Homo sapiens: one gene and its partner. The protein of the gene in region 1 interacts with the protein of each later gene in a biochemical or structural test. Each region holds a gene or a part of one and is shown on either strand. Other genes may lie near its edges.

Evidence for each region.
Region 2: the proteins of FCN2 (region 1) and DMBT1 form a complex in vitro, tested with the Homo sapiens proteins (one study listed by IntAct).

The regions. Positions count from the first base shown.
Region 1 is NC_000009.12:134,883,742-134,888,239, forward strand, and holds the end of FCN2 (ficolin-2 isoform a precursor), read left to right. Parts: intron 1-998; coding exon 999-1,031; intron 1,032-1,497; coding exon 1,498-1,625; intron 1,626-2,026; coding exon 2,027-2,156; intron 2,157-2,688; coding exon 2,689-2,823; intron 2,824-3,426; coding exon 3,427-3,674; 3' UTR 3,675-3,782; downstream 3,783-4,498.
Region 2 is NC_000010.11:122,556,056-122,563,942, reverse strand, and holds the start of DMBT1 (scavenger receptor cysteine-rich domain-containing protein DMBT1 isoform e precursor), read right to left. Parts: upstream 3,190-7,887; 5' UTR 3,173-3,189; coding exon 3,112-3,172; intron 1-3,111.

The DNA of each region.
Region 1 (4,498 bases):
AGGTGTTATCAGCAGGGAGGGAGGAGCTGTCAATATGGGGGAGAGATTCTGGGATGGGGGAGAGGTTCTGATTATTCGGGGAGGGACTTTTAGTGTGGGGAGGGGTTCTTAGTGGGGGGGCTGTCTGTATGGGGGGGTTCTCAGGTAGGGGAAGGTTTTCAGTGCAGGAGCATCTGCCCTGTGGGTGGGCCTGAGACCAAATCCTGTCCCTCTAATGTGGAAGTGGTCTTGAGAGGGTGGGGGGGGATTGTCTGCCCACCTCTCTAAGCCTCACTCAGTCCTGGCCTCTGTCCCCTGAGCATGAGGCCCTGTCTTGTCCCCTCCTCCTGACTCTGCTTGAAAACCAGGATCAGCCCCGGATGGCTTGGAGAACCATGCCAACAAGTTCCAAACACAGAATTAGTGGAAATTCTCTGCTTTAAAACAAAGAATTTTCTGATATATTTTCTTGAGGAATAAATTTTGAGGAATCGGAGAAATACGCAGTAGGAAATTGAAGCTCCCTTTACTCACTCACCTTTACCCACAGACCTACTCAGAATAAGACCACCCTACACTCACCAAACCCCAGGCTCAGTCATGGGTTGTGTCTAAACATAAAATACGCAGGTTTGGTGCCCACACCGCAAACAACACTCCCCACATCATATTACTGTGTCCACCAAGATGGGCTGTTTGCAGGCCTTGGGGCCTCAGGAGAAGCCTGAAGATCCAGGCTTCCTTTAGTTGGCATGTGGAGGCCTCAGCAGTCTCTGGGATGGTGGCCTCTGCTTCCCCAGGAACCTCTGAAAGGGGTGCATGTGGTGGAGGGGCCAGTGTAGGCATCCCTCGAGGGAAAGAAAAATTTGGTCAACAGAACCAGGGTCAGGGACTCCTTGGCTGGACCCATACCATCACCTCCTGGGGAGGCCCAGAAAATGGTGTCCGCGGACCAATGGGGGCTGAAGGGCTCTGATTTCCAAACTGTGACACGTGTGTCCTCTCTCATCCATGAACAGGAGCACCTGGGGAGCCCCAGCCGTGCCTGACAGGTGACTGACCACCCCCACACTCCTCCCACGGCTTGTGGCTGCCCTTGGCTGGAAGTCCAGGGTCATACGACGCCATTGCCAGAATGAAGTGACAAATATGAACAGAAGAAAATGGTTGCTTGCCCGTTTCCTTGTCCCCTAATTATTCAAGGAAGTGACAAATATTGTCCAGACAACTTACATACACTCCATGGCAATTTTTTTCTATTTATAATCTACGCCAGAAGGCCGGGTGCCCAGGAGCTGAAGGTGGGGGTGACACTGGGAGGTGGGAGGGCCAGGCCAACTGGCTGCGGCCATCACAGCTGCGTGGCCCTGGGGGCCGTGTCCCTGTCCAGGCCTCAGAGTCCCGCTCTGTTCATACAGACGCCTATGGCCCTGCTTCTTCCTCCCAGGCCTCCCTCCTACTGCCTGTGCCCTGCCCAGGGCTCCTGTCCTGCAGCCATTCCCCGGGTTCCCTTCCCAGGCCCGCGTACCTGCAAGGACCTGCTAGACCGAGGGCACTTCCTGAGCGGCTGGCACACCATCTACCTGCCCGACTGCCGGCCCCTGACTGTGCTCTGTGACATGGACACGGACGGAGGGGGCTGGACCGTGAGTGTGGGGCTGGGCAGAGGCGGTCAGCCTGGGAGTCCCGGAGGCCAGGCTGCACACCTGGTGGGAGAACACACTCTGGAATTCTCTATTCTCCTGGTCGGGGACAGTCAGAGATGATGGGGGAGATGACCGGTGGGTAAAAGTCCAGGCCTTTGGGGGAGGCTGGGAGAGGTTGGGTGCTCTCCTGCTGTGTGGCTTGGGGCTTGTTGCCTCCCCTCTCTGAGCCCCCATTTCCTCCTTCATCCTGTGGAGTCTGTGAGGAGAACAGGTGGGCGTGCTGGTGACCCCGCCTGTGATGCTCTGCCAACTACAAATGCTGCTCCTCTGGAGGGCGGGTCCCCCGTGCTGTGGGACGTCGGCCTGGCCCCCCCGGCTCCTGTCCCCTGGCTTCTCCACAGGTTTTCCAGCGGAGGGTGGATGGCTCTGTGGACTTCTACCGGGACTGGGCCACGTACAAGCAGGGCTTCGGCAGTCGGCTGGGGGAGTTCTGGCTGGGGAATGACAACATCCACGCCCTGACCGCCCAGGGTAGGGCCGCTGCTGGGGCTTGGGGGTCGGGGGCCCTGAATGGGGGTGCCCCTGCCTCTTGGGCCTGGGCTGCCTGGAACACAAGAGCCTCTTGGCCCACAGGGGATTGGGCCCTGAGCACACTCAGGGTGGCACTGGGACCTCCGAGGGCTTCGTCCCTGCTGCAGGCTCTGGCAGCATCGGGACGGGAGAGGGTCAGAGCTCTGGGATGAAGGCCTCTTCAGGTCTTGGCCCCACTGGCATCTCAGGTCCTGAGAGGGGAAGGAGGGACACAGTGGCCCCATAGTGGAGTTTGGGCCCAACCCCAACTCTGCCTCTAATCCGCTAGGATTTGGGAGTCAAGAGTCTTGCCCTGCTGCTCAGCACACCCTGCCGGGTCAGAGCTACACAGGCCCCGGGGATGCTGCGGTGCTCTCCGCCCTCTGCCTCCATGGAGTCCAGACCTCCTTCCAGGCCCTGCCCCAGATCCCCAGCTCCCATGTCTAAAGGTAGAGAGCCCTTCCGCTGAGACCCTGAAACCTTTCTCTAACAGGAACCAGCGAGCTCCGTGTAGACCTGGTGGACTTTGAGGACAACTACCAGTTTGCTAAGTACAGATCATTCAAGGTGGCCGACGAGGCGGAGAAGTACAATCTGGTCCTGGGGGCCTTCGTGGAGGGCAGTGCGGGTGAGTGTCTGCTTGGGGCTGTGTGGCCTGGGCTTCTGAGGGGGGTTTGGGAAGTGGAGAGAGCGTGCTCAGTGTCCTGGTAGCCTTGTGGAAGAGGCCTCACCTCTCTGAGCCAATTCGTCCATCTCTACATGCAGACACTAACATCTGTGCTCTGTGTAGCATGGGGGTCATGGGACACATCAGTGTATGACTGCAGAAATCCCAGCAAGGGCATCTGGTAGGAAGGAAGTCTCTGCAGAGCAGGGACCTATGCACGGTGACAGCAGCTGATATCTCTGCGGGGCATGGCTGGAAGGGGTCTGCCATGATGGAATCCAGAGTAGAGAATGATGATCCTGACCCCTGCCTCCTGTTCTTCTGTGAAATAAACATAGTACACATTAGGTGGCAGGGCTAGACCTAAAGACAATTTGCCAAGACCACTGCCAACAGCAGGGCAGTATTCACTGGAGTCATGGATTGCACTTCTTGGATTGTGCAGTGCACAACCTGCCTAACCATACATGGAGGACACACCAGGCCAGGCCTCAGGTATAAAGACTTATACTGTCTGTAATGATGTTACTGCCTGTAACGATGCTCACATTTCCTCCTGCACAGGAGATTCCCTGACGTTCCACAACAACCAGTCCTTCTCCACCAAAGACCAGGACAATGATCTTAACACCGGAAATTGTGCTGTGATGTTTCAGGGAGCTTGGTGGTACAAAAACTGCCATGTGTCAAACCTGAATGGTCGCTACCTCAGGGGGACTCATGGCAGCTTTGCAAATGGCATCAACTGGAAGTCGGGGAAAGGATACAATTATAGCTACAAGGTGTCAGAGATGAAGGTGCGACCTGCCTAGCCCAGGCCGGCCTCAGGGTCAGGACGCCTCCACACATAGTTGGTTGGGGGGTAGGGTTGGGAGCTTGGCCCTACGGTTTGTAAAAGAAACACATGTCGTGATTCTAAATTGGGTTTGTCTTGCTGTGCGGAAGAGGTTCAAATCCAGCTCTGTTTCCGCAATCAACCCTTTCAGATTTGTGACATTAACTCACCTCAAACCTCTGTCTTTCCTTGACAATGAGTAAGAATGTGTTCCTGACCATGCCAGCAGGAACCTTCCTTAAGGACAAATACAAGACTTTGAAGCTGCGATGGGCTCAGAGTGCAGCCCTGCTCAGGTCCCTGGGCAGGCTAAACGCCTTCCTGGGGCTCGACCATCTGGGCTTCTCTGTGAGCTGGATGGCAGGGAAGTCAGAAGGCACATTGGAGAGGAAGTTTCTCTTGCACTCAGAGATGCCGTTGCCTGTCCAAGGCCCCCAGCCTCGTAGCCGCAGCTCTGCTCACTCTCCCCCGTCACCCAGGCTTCCTGCCGCCTGCTGTCCTGGGTATTCGTGGGATCTGCTCGCTACTTCCTCACAAGCCGAAGCAAGAGTGGCAGTGTGCCTGTGACTCCCTCATCAAAACGGAGAGAGTGGTTACATGAGGCAGGTGTGAGGGACCCGAGCACTCCTGAGGAGGGAAGAACACTCCTCTTGGCCATGAGTGTCCATCCCAAAGCTGCCCTGCAGCCTAGCCCAGTGCAGATTGAATCAGAAAGCCAAAGCCCCTTCCACCCGCTTCTCTCAGGCAAGCTGCCTGCAAGAGAGAAAAGTGTATTAGTGCAGGAGCTTGTGTCTGCTGAGG
Region 2 (7,887 bases), on another chromosome or scaffold:
CTAAGAGAGCCTTCCATTCAAAACTCGGCCATTTAAACACAGTCTACCTGACACCATGCAATTCCCACTGCCAGGTCCCAGGTATCCTGCCTAATCCCATGGCAGTCGAACTCATCCAGCCAGAGCCTTGACAAGGCTCATCCACAGCATGGAACACCACATTGAAGTTGTTCCTGGTTCTGCTGTGTCCACACATTTTGAATAGACCCTTCTGCACATACTGAGACCAATCTGTAGTCTTCCAAGAATCAACCACATAGCTGTAGGTTACTCCAGCTGCCATTGTGGGAATGGTGGTAAATTGCCTGAAGGGAGAAGAATCACTTCTGGAAAATGATTTATTAATTTTTTTTTTTGAGACAGAGTCTCACTCTGTCACCCAGGCTGGAGTGCAGTGGCACAATCTCGGCTCACGGCAACCTCTGCCTCCTGAGTTCAAGTGATTCTCATGCTAACAAACACTGGTACCTTCCTACTAAGTTTACTCCAGGCTTTATCTGGATTTCACCAGTTTTTCATTTTCTGTTGCAGGATCCAATCCAAGAGCTCACATTACTTTTAGGAAGCTGCTTTTGGATAAAACATGAGGAAAATGTCTAGAGTAGTAACACTAAATGGTTCTGAGGCTCTGTCTATGTGCCAGATACTGCATGGGTTGGAACATAACCTCCATTTATAAATGAGTAAACTGAGGGTCACAGAGGATCCACAGCAGGCAAGTGGCAGAGGAGGGGCATTGCTGGGGCTAGCAGTGGGTACCACAGCCTTTCCTGCCCAGCACAAACCTGGGCATACTGAGTTTTTCTCAAGAGTTTGCATGAAGACCAGAGCTGACAGGTGCCTGCCACCTCGGTACTTCCAGCGCAAAGCTCTGTGGTCAGGCTCCAAGCACTGAGTTAGATGCCACAGTTCAGTTCATCACCTCAGTTCCCTGCAAGGAGCAGCAAGGGCCAGTGGGCCAGAGCTGTCATCTGAATGCTAGTGAATTTGATCCAGATTCAAGCCCTAACCCAGCCACTCACCAGTGCTGTCTTTGGACAAGCCAATAACCTTTCTGAGCCTCAGTTTCCCCATCTGAAATGTGGAAATAATTGTTCCTAACTTCAGCAATGTTAGAAGATTTAAATAAGAGAATACAGGTCCACTTCAGAGAGCATGAATTCCCACCTCTGAATGGCAAACACAGGCATGCATGCACATGTGTGCATGTCTGTCCATATGCATGCACATAACATCATGGGCAAACTACAAATGTCCTCAATCCAAGAGCACTGCTGCCTGTTGTTTCTTTGTAGATAAAGACGAGGCAATTCACTCCCTGTCTACAGTGGCTGATGTGAATTCCATGTCATGGTTCAGAGACAATCTGGAGGGTGAACTCGGTACTGACAAGAGCTGGGGCTGAGGACGCAGCCTCCCAGTTTCAGATGCTTCTGATGGAGGCAGGATGAGGATGCCCAGTCTCCACTCCCCTGAGGTCCTGGGCCTGGTGGCCCCCAGTCCCTCCACACACTCATCACAGGGGGTGGGCCTGCTCCCTACCACCTGGGTGGGAGGGCTGGGTTTGGGGGTGCTGCTTTCATGAAAGCAACCAACCAGATGAACCTTAATCTTCAAAGCTTCCCCCACTGAGCCTAGGGGGAGAGTGACAGTTCCAGAAGTTACCTGAAAATTAGGTGATTTTTACCCTGTATCCTGAAATTCATAAATCTAGCAAAAGATGACATAAAAGAAAAAAAAGGCAGTAGGAAAGATAAAAGAGAAGAAGGAAGAAAGAAATGAATAAAGAGAGGGAGAGAAAGAAAAAGGGATGGAAGGAAGGTAGAAAGAAGATAGAAACAAAGGGAGAGAGAGAGAGAGAAATAGGGAGGAAAAGTGATAAGAGCTGCCCAATAGATGATGAGAAAGAGTGAGAGAGAAAAAGAGAGGGGGAGGGAAGGTGATAATAGCTGCCTGACAGATGAAGAGAAACAGATAGAGAGAGAGAGGAAAGGTGATAATAGTTGCCCAATAGTTGAAGAGAAAGAGAGACAGAGACAGAGAGAAAGGTGATAATAGCTGCCCAATAAAGAGAAAGAGAGATGGAGAGAGAAACAGAGAAGGAGGAGGAGGGAGGGAGGAAAGGTAATAACTGCCTGATAGATGAGAAAGACAGGAAGATACAGTGAGGGGGGCAGGGAGAGAAAGGCAGAGGCAGAAACAGAGGGAGGAGGAGGAAGAAAAGGTGATATCTGCCCAAAAGATGGGAAAAAGAGAAAGATACAGAGAGAGAGAGAAACACAGACAGACAGACAGAAACAGAGGGAGAGAGAGGGGAGAGAAAAGATGATAATAACTACACAATAGATAAGAGAGAAAGAGAGAGAGAGAGAGGCAGAGAGACAGGAAGAGAGAGACAAAATAGGCAAACTGAGAATCACTTGTTCCTCTAGTATCTCTGCAAAATGCCATTGAGATGCAGCAATCAGAGTGCGCTACCGACGGCTCTCTCACGTTTATCATCTGACTCTCTAAGAACATACAGCTATGCTTGAGTGACTGGGCTTCAAGTGTTTGTTTAAAGCTGTGCATGACAGAGAAACTTGGAATTCCAAGACAAACTTGGAATCTTAATGATCTTGTCTGCGCTCAATTACTTGACCTGATTTTGCTCGGCAAATATTAGCCATCAAGCCAGACACACCTGTAGAAAGAAGCCACATAAAGGGCATTTGCAGTGGGAATCCTTTCTGCCCGTTTTCATAGCACACAAATTGTGTGTTTAACCAATTGTTGCAAAGTTTAAGGGCCTCTTAATAATACACATCCACCTTTCCTAAACTTCAGGGATTTTTCTAAGACAAATCAATCATTCCTTTAGTTGAATGACTTACTGAAAACATTGACTTAATGACTGGCTTTTTCTAACTACAACCATTTATATTTCTCAGCCAGAAATAAAACAAAAAAGAGCCATTCCTCCTGAATACCTGCAAACAATTACAATTATCAGCAAAGTGCTACCCACTCTTTGATATAAAACTTCCCTTGTAATGGAAAGTAGTAGATATAATTTGCCATGATTGGGTCTGCAGGAGAGAAATTAATGAATATAATAATTAAACGTAATACCTGTAGATAGAACTTGTCCCCATAAAAGACACATTTCAAGGATGACTGTGGAGATCCCCATTTTGCTGGGTTCTTCTCAATTGAATAGAAAATCCTGGACATTTATAGGTACCTAGCTAAAAGGAGGTGTGTCCTCTAGGGTGGTATATTTCTACTGCTGCTATAAATCAATATAAAGGAAGTGAGGGCTTTTGCTAACAGTCGATGGCTAATATGTGGAAAAAACTTAGGTGTGTTTGATTGATTGCCATATGAACAATCTGGCTGTTGCCCAACTGCAAACGCACTGACATAAGTGAAAAATTTCCAACTTCCCTCTCGGTGAACCTCAAGGACTCCCAAGTGTTTCCTGAATACGGGCTTGATTTTAATCTTGGGGAGTTCAAATTCACCTGTGGGAAGTCTGCCCCAAGGTTTGGGGAAGAACAGGATGTGGGCTGCTGAGCAAATACAGGACACAGTGCCAAGGGGGAAAGCATCTCTGGGATGGTTTTTCCTGGCAGGACATGCTCTCATCAGCCCCTGTGCAGTACTAGTAACCTCACCTTGGAAGAACGAGGATGACATGAGTGTGGATGTGATCAGAGAGCAGAAGTCATGAGGGATGATTCCACGGAGACCATGGGTCCATAATAGCTTTGGCCACAGTCTTCTGGGTCTCACACTAATTCCACAACAGGAGCTGAGAAACACATGACCTCAAACTGAACCACCTCCAACCATTTCACATGGCTTTGATTTCTTGTCCTTGACATGCACATTGTATGACCCTTGGAGCTTGGCAAACCCACAAAACCTGCCCCCACCTCCACCTATATTGCACACAATCCCCCTCCTTGGATTTGCTATGTAAATATCACTTCACTCTTTGGGACCCTCAGAAGTCATTACCAGACTCTGATAATGCCCCCCAACACACTCTACCAAGAAGGTTGCCTGACACTTATTTTTTAACCAAGACACTTGATGGCCAGTAACTCTTGGTTAAAAGCAGACAGCTTTCCAGGACTTGCCTCTGTTTTCCTAGCCTGGGTGAGCTGTGCCCTGCTTCTCAGCTGAGAGGCTGAGGCCATGAAATGACACTTGGCTTCTTTGCCATGCACTGTTCATCAGTAGTCTATGCTGCATTCTAGAAGGGTACCATGAACCCATGTCCTGTGTCAGCCACCAGTCAGAATTTAGGGCTGGAAGTCTGCCTTTGGCTTCATCCAGATGAAAGTTACATTTAATCTTGGATGTCCTTTTTAATCCTACAACTCTTCCTGTTGTTTCCAGGTGCCTCTTCACCCCTTGAGTAGAACAGGAACACAGAATAGGCTCACTGTGTTTCATCCTCCTACTGCCAGATCAGCAACTGATAAGCACTGGGTGACGAGAGAACAGGTTTACTCACCTACCAGGGAATGCCCAAGACCAGGCACATGCTGGATTCCTCTTAGAAGTGGATTGTGATCCCTTGGTTCCTGGAGTGTTGGACTGAGAATGATAATGCAGCTGGGTCTGGGATCATCAGAGTGTCATGACAGATTAGAATTGTCTGCCGGGAGCACAGCAGGGAAAGATGATGGTAAGAATACTAAATACCTGTGAACAGGAAGGGGTAATAAGTGTCCTTCCAAGACAAAAGCAGACTGTCTGGTCTTAGAGACAGACCTGCCTGGTGACAATTTCAACAGGGGGTAGCAAGTATTAGTACAAGCTGCTATGAGAAGGTAAAGAAAAGCATCTAAATCAGATGAGGGAGGCCATCTCTCAGAGAGGGTGGCACCAAACAGTCTTGAAATACCAGCAGAGGTCAGCCCAGCAAATGAGAGCGAGAAGATGGGATGACGAACAGGAGCGACTCTCCCGGCTGTACAGGAATGGGGGCAGGGAGCCTTCCCCTCCAGGAAAGCATGATGTCCCAGGTATCTCTCAGCTTGGCGGGGACACCCTTCTTGAGAATGTGTGGGATTTTCTGAACTGCGTAACCTCCCCGTTTTTGTTGTTTTGACTGCATCTTTTGCCCATGGTGGTTAGCAGAAAAGATCCTGAGAAAATAAGGTTTGTGAGCTTTTTGTTCAGGAGACACCAGGAAGAAGGAAGTGGTGAAGCCTAGCTGTCATTTCAAAGCCAGCCCAGGTAGGCATCCCAGGTGGGAAATGGGTGACGTCAGTGGAACAGGAAGGATGTGGCGGTCCTGGGCATGCGGGCAGAAGACAATGGGCTTGAGGGCCACCTGCCAACACCGTGTGGGACCTCAGCCTTCACCGTCAGGTGCCTCATCTTGTCCCAAGGCCATTTTGTGGCTCATAAGACACCATTTAGGGAGGTCTTTCCTTGGACTAAGAGAAGGGTTCAGGGGGACAACCTCCTCCAGCAGCAGCCCCTGCCAGAGGACCCTCATCTTCCCCTTCCTACTGGTTAGAAGCATCTGCTTAAACAGCAGGGGTTGGAAGACCACAACCACAAAGTTCCATTTTATTCACCCCAGAACTGCCATGAAGAACAACAGGAAGCAAGATAAGCCCATTAAAGCTCAGAGACTCGGCGCCCGGGCCCCATTTGCAAAGCACCTTCCCCAGGCAATTAAGCCAGCGGCACCCCCACAGCACACTCCAGGAGGTGGGACCAAGCCCCTAAATCCCAGCACCAGAGGACTGGTCATTATGGGGAAGAGCCCCCTGGATCATATGTGGCCATTTATTTATTTATTTACTTATTTATTTTAAGACGGAGTCTTGTTCTGTCGCCCAGGCTGGAGTGCAGTGGTGCAATCTCGGCTCACTACAACCTCCGCCTCCCAAGTTCAAGCGATTCTCCTGCCTCAGCCTCCCGAGTAGCTGGAACTACAGGCGTGCATCACCACACCCAGCTAACTTTTGTATTTTTAGTAGAGACAGGGTTTCACCATGTTGGCCAGGATGGTGTCGATCTCTTGACCTTGCGATCTGCCTGCCTCGGCCTCTCAAAGTTCTGAGATTACAGGCATGAGTCACCGCGCCCGGCCATGTATGGCTTTTTTTTTTAAAGCTACAGAATCCTTTCCTAAATTGGAATTCATGGGGAAGCCCCAAAACATAAAACAGGCCAGTGGAATGCTCCCGAGTGTGGTGAGGGAGTCCCCTTCCAGGCCCCTCCCCTAGGGCCACCTGCCGTCAGAGCTGAGGATTACCTGTGGGAAGCCAAGACCTCCCTTCATAAGACAGGGCACTGAGAGGCCCAGCAGGGCCCCTGGGGCTGCCAGGCACACATCCCTGCCACGAAGCTGAGCTGGGGTCCCAGGCAGACTTCCCAAAACAGCCCGTTGTTCTCCTTCTTCTAAAGATTCTTTCTACCCACAGACCAGTGCCCTGGGAAGCCAGAGGAAGACGGAGATCAGGGAGGCAGCCCAGGGCCCCTCCCACCTCCCACCTCTGAGGGGTCTCTGATTTCTGAACCAGGAGCCCTGTGACCTGACAGACAGACGAGGGGGACAGAAGGACGGGGAGCCTGGTGGGAAGGGTCGGGGCTGTAGCACTTTCCGGCTGCTGCTGTTTGCCTTCCAGTCCCTGAATCCTGTAATCTGTGTGACCAGGGCTCCCCTTCAGGTGTCAGTCTGACCCCAAACTCTAATTTTACCCTCATTGAGTAGCACACCATAATTGCTGGTCATCGTTACCGTTGTAACAATCTTTTGACATTGTATGTCTGATATTTATAATGTCGCTCATTTTTGTTGCTCAGAGAGCCGGTCTTCCCAATCGGGTTATAAGGGGACCCCTTCCTACCCTCCTTCACTCACTCCCCCCACCCCCCACTGCCCCACACCTCCTTGCTGGGCTTTGAGGATCAAGCTGAGACCCGTTGTCTCCTGCTGCCCCTCTGTGATCCCAGTGCCCCAGCAGAGCAGGTGCTCAGCAGGCAATGGCTTTGAAGGTGGGGATTGTGAGTGGCTCACCCATGCTGTCCAGGGGTCCCCAGAAAGAAGTCTTGTGGTTAAACGGGGGCTGGTGACGAGCCAGTTCTCCTCCACCACTCAGCCTCCAGCTGGGGACGATGAGGTCCAGAGAAGGGAAATGACACACAGAGCTGAGACCATGTCCAGGACAGCACTCACGGCAGCTGCTGCCCCCCATCTGAAGGACAGATGAGCTCCACGTTCATCAGGATGCCATCCAACCGCGGAATCTTCCAGCAACAAACACAGCCCTCTAGGGACCCCTGACACACAGAAATCCCATTGCATGCCTCCCATCTTGCTCAGAGTAAGGCTCAAAGCCCTCCCATGGTTTATAAGGCCCTGCACAAGATACCCCTGCCTCTCTCTCCCCCTTGCCCCCTGTAACCATCATCCAGCCCCAGGGCCTTTGCACTTGCTGCTCCCTGTGCCTGAAGACTTTTTCCCCAAATGTCTGGAGACTCACTCCTTCCCCTCCTCCAGAGATTTTCTCACATAGCACCGCCTCCATGCAGCCTTACCGACTGCCCCTCCCCAGCACTCCCTAACACTCCCATCCTCTCCCCACGGCACTCCTCACCATCTGGCCACCTTCTATTTCACTTCTTTATTCTTTTGCCTGTCTGCTCTGACTAAAATGCAAGCTATACAAGGTGGGATTTTTGTCTGTTTTATCCATTGCTGTATACTCAGAACCTAGAACAATGCTTCACACATAGTAGTAGACGCTCAAGAAATATCTGCATTCAGGCCAGGCACGGTGGCTCATGCCTGTAATCCCAGCACTTTGGGAGGCCAAGGTGGGTGGATCACTTGAGTTTGTGACCAGCCTGGCCAACATGGCGAACCCTGTCTCT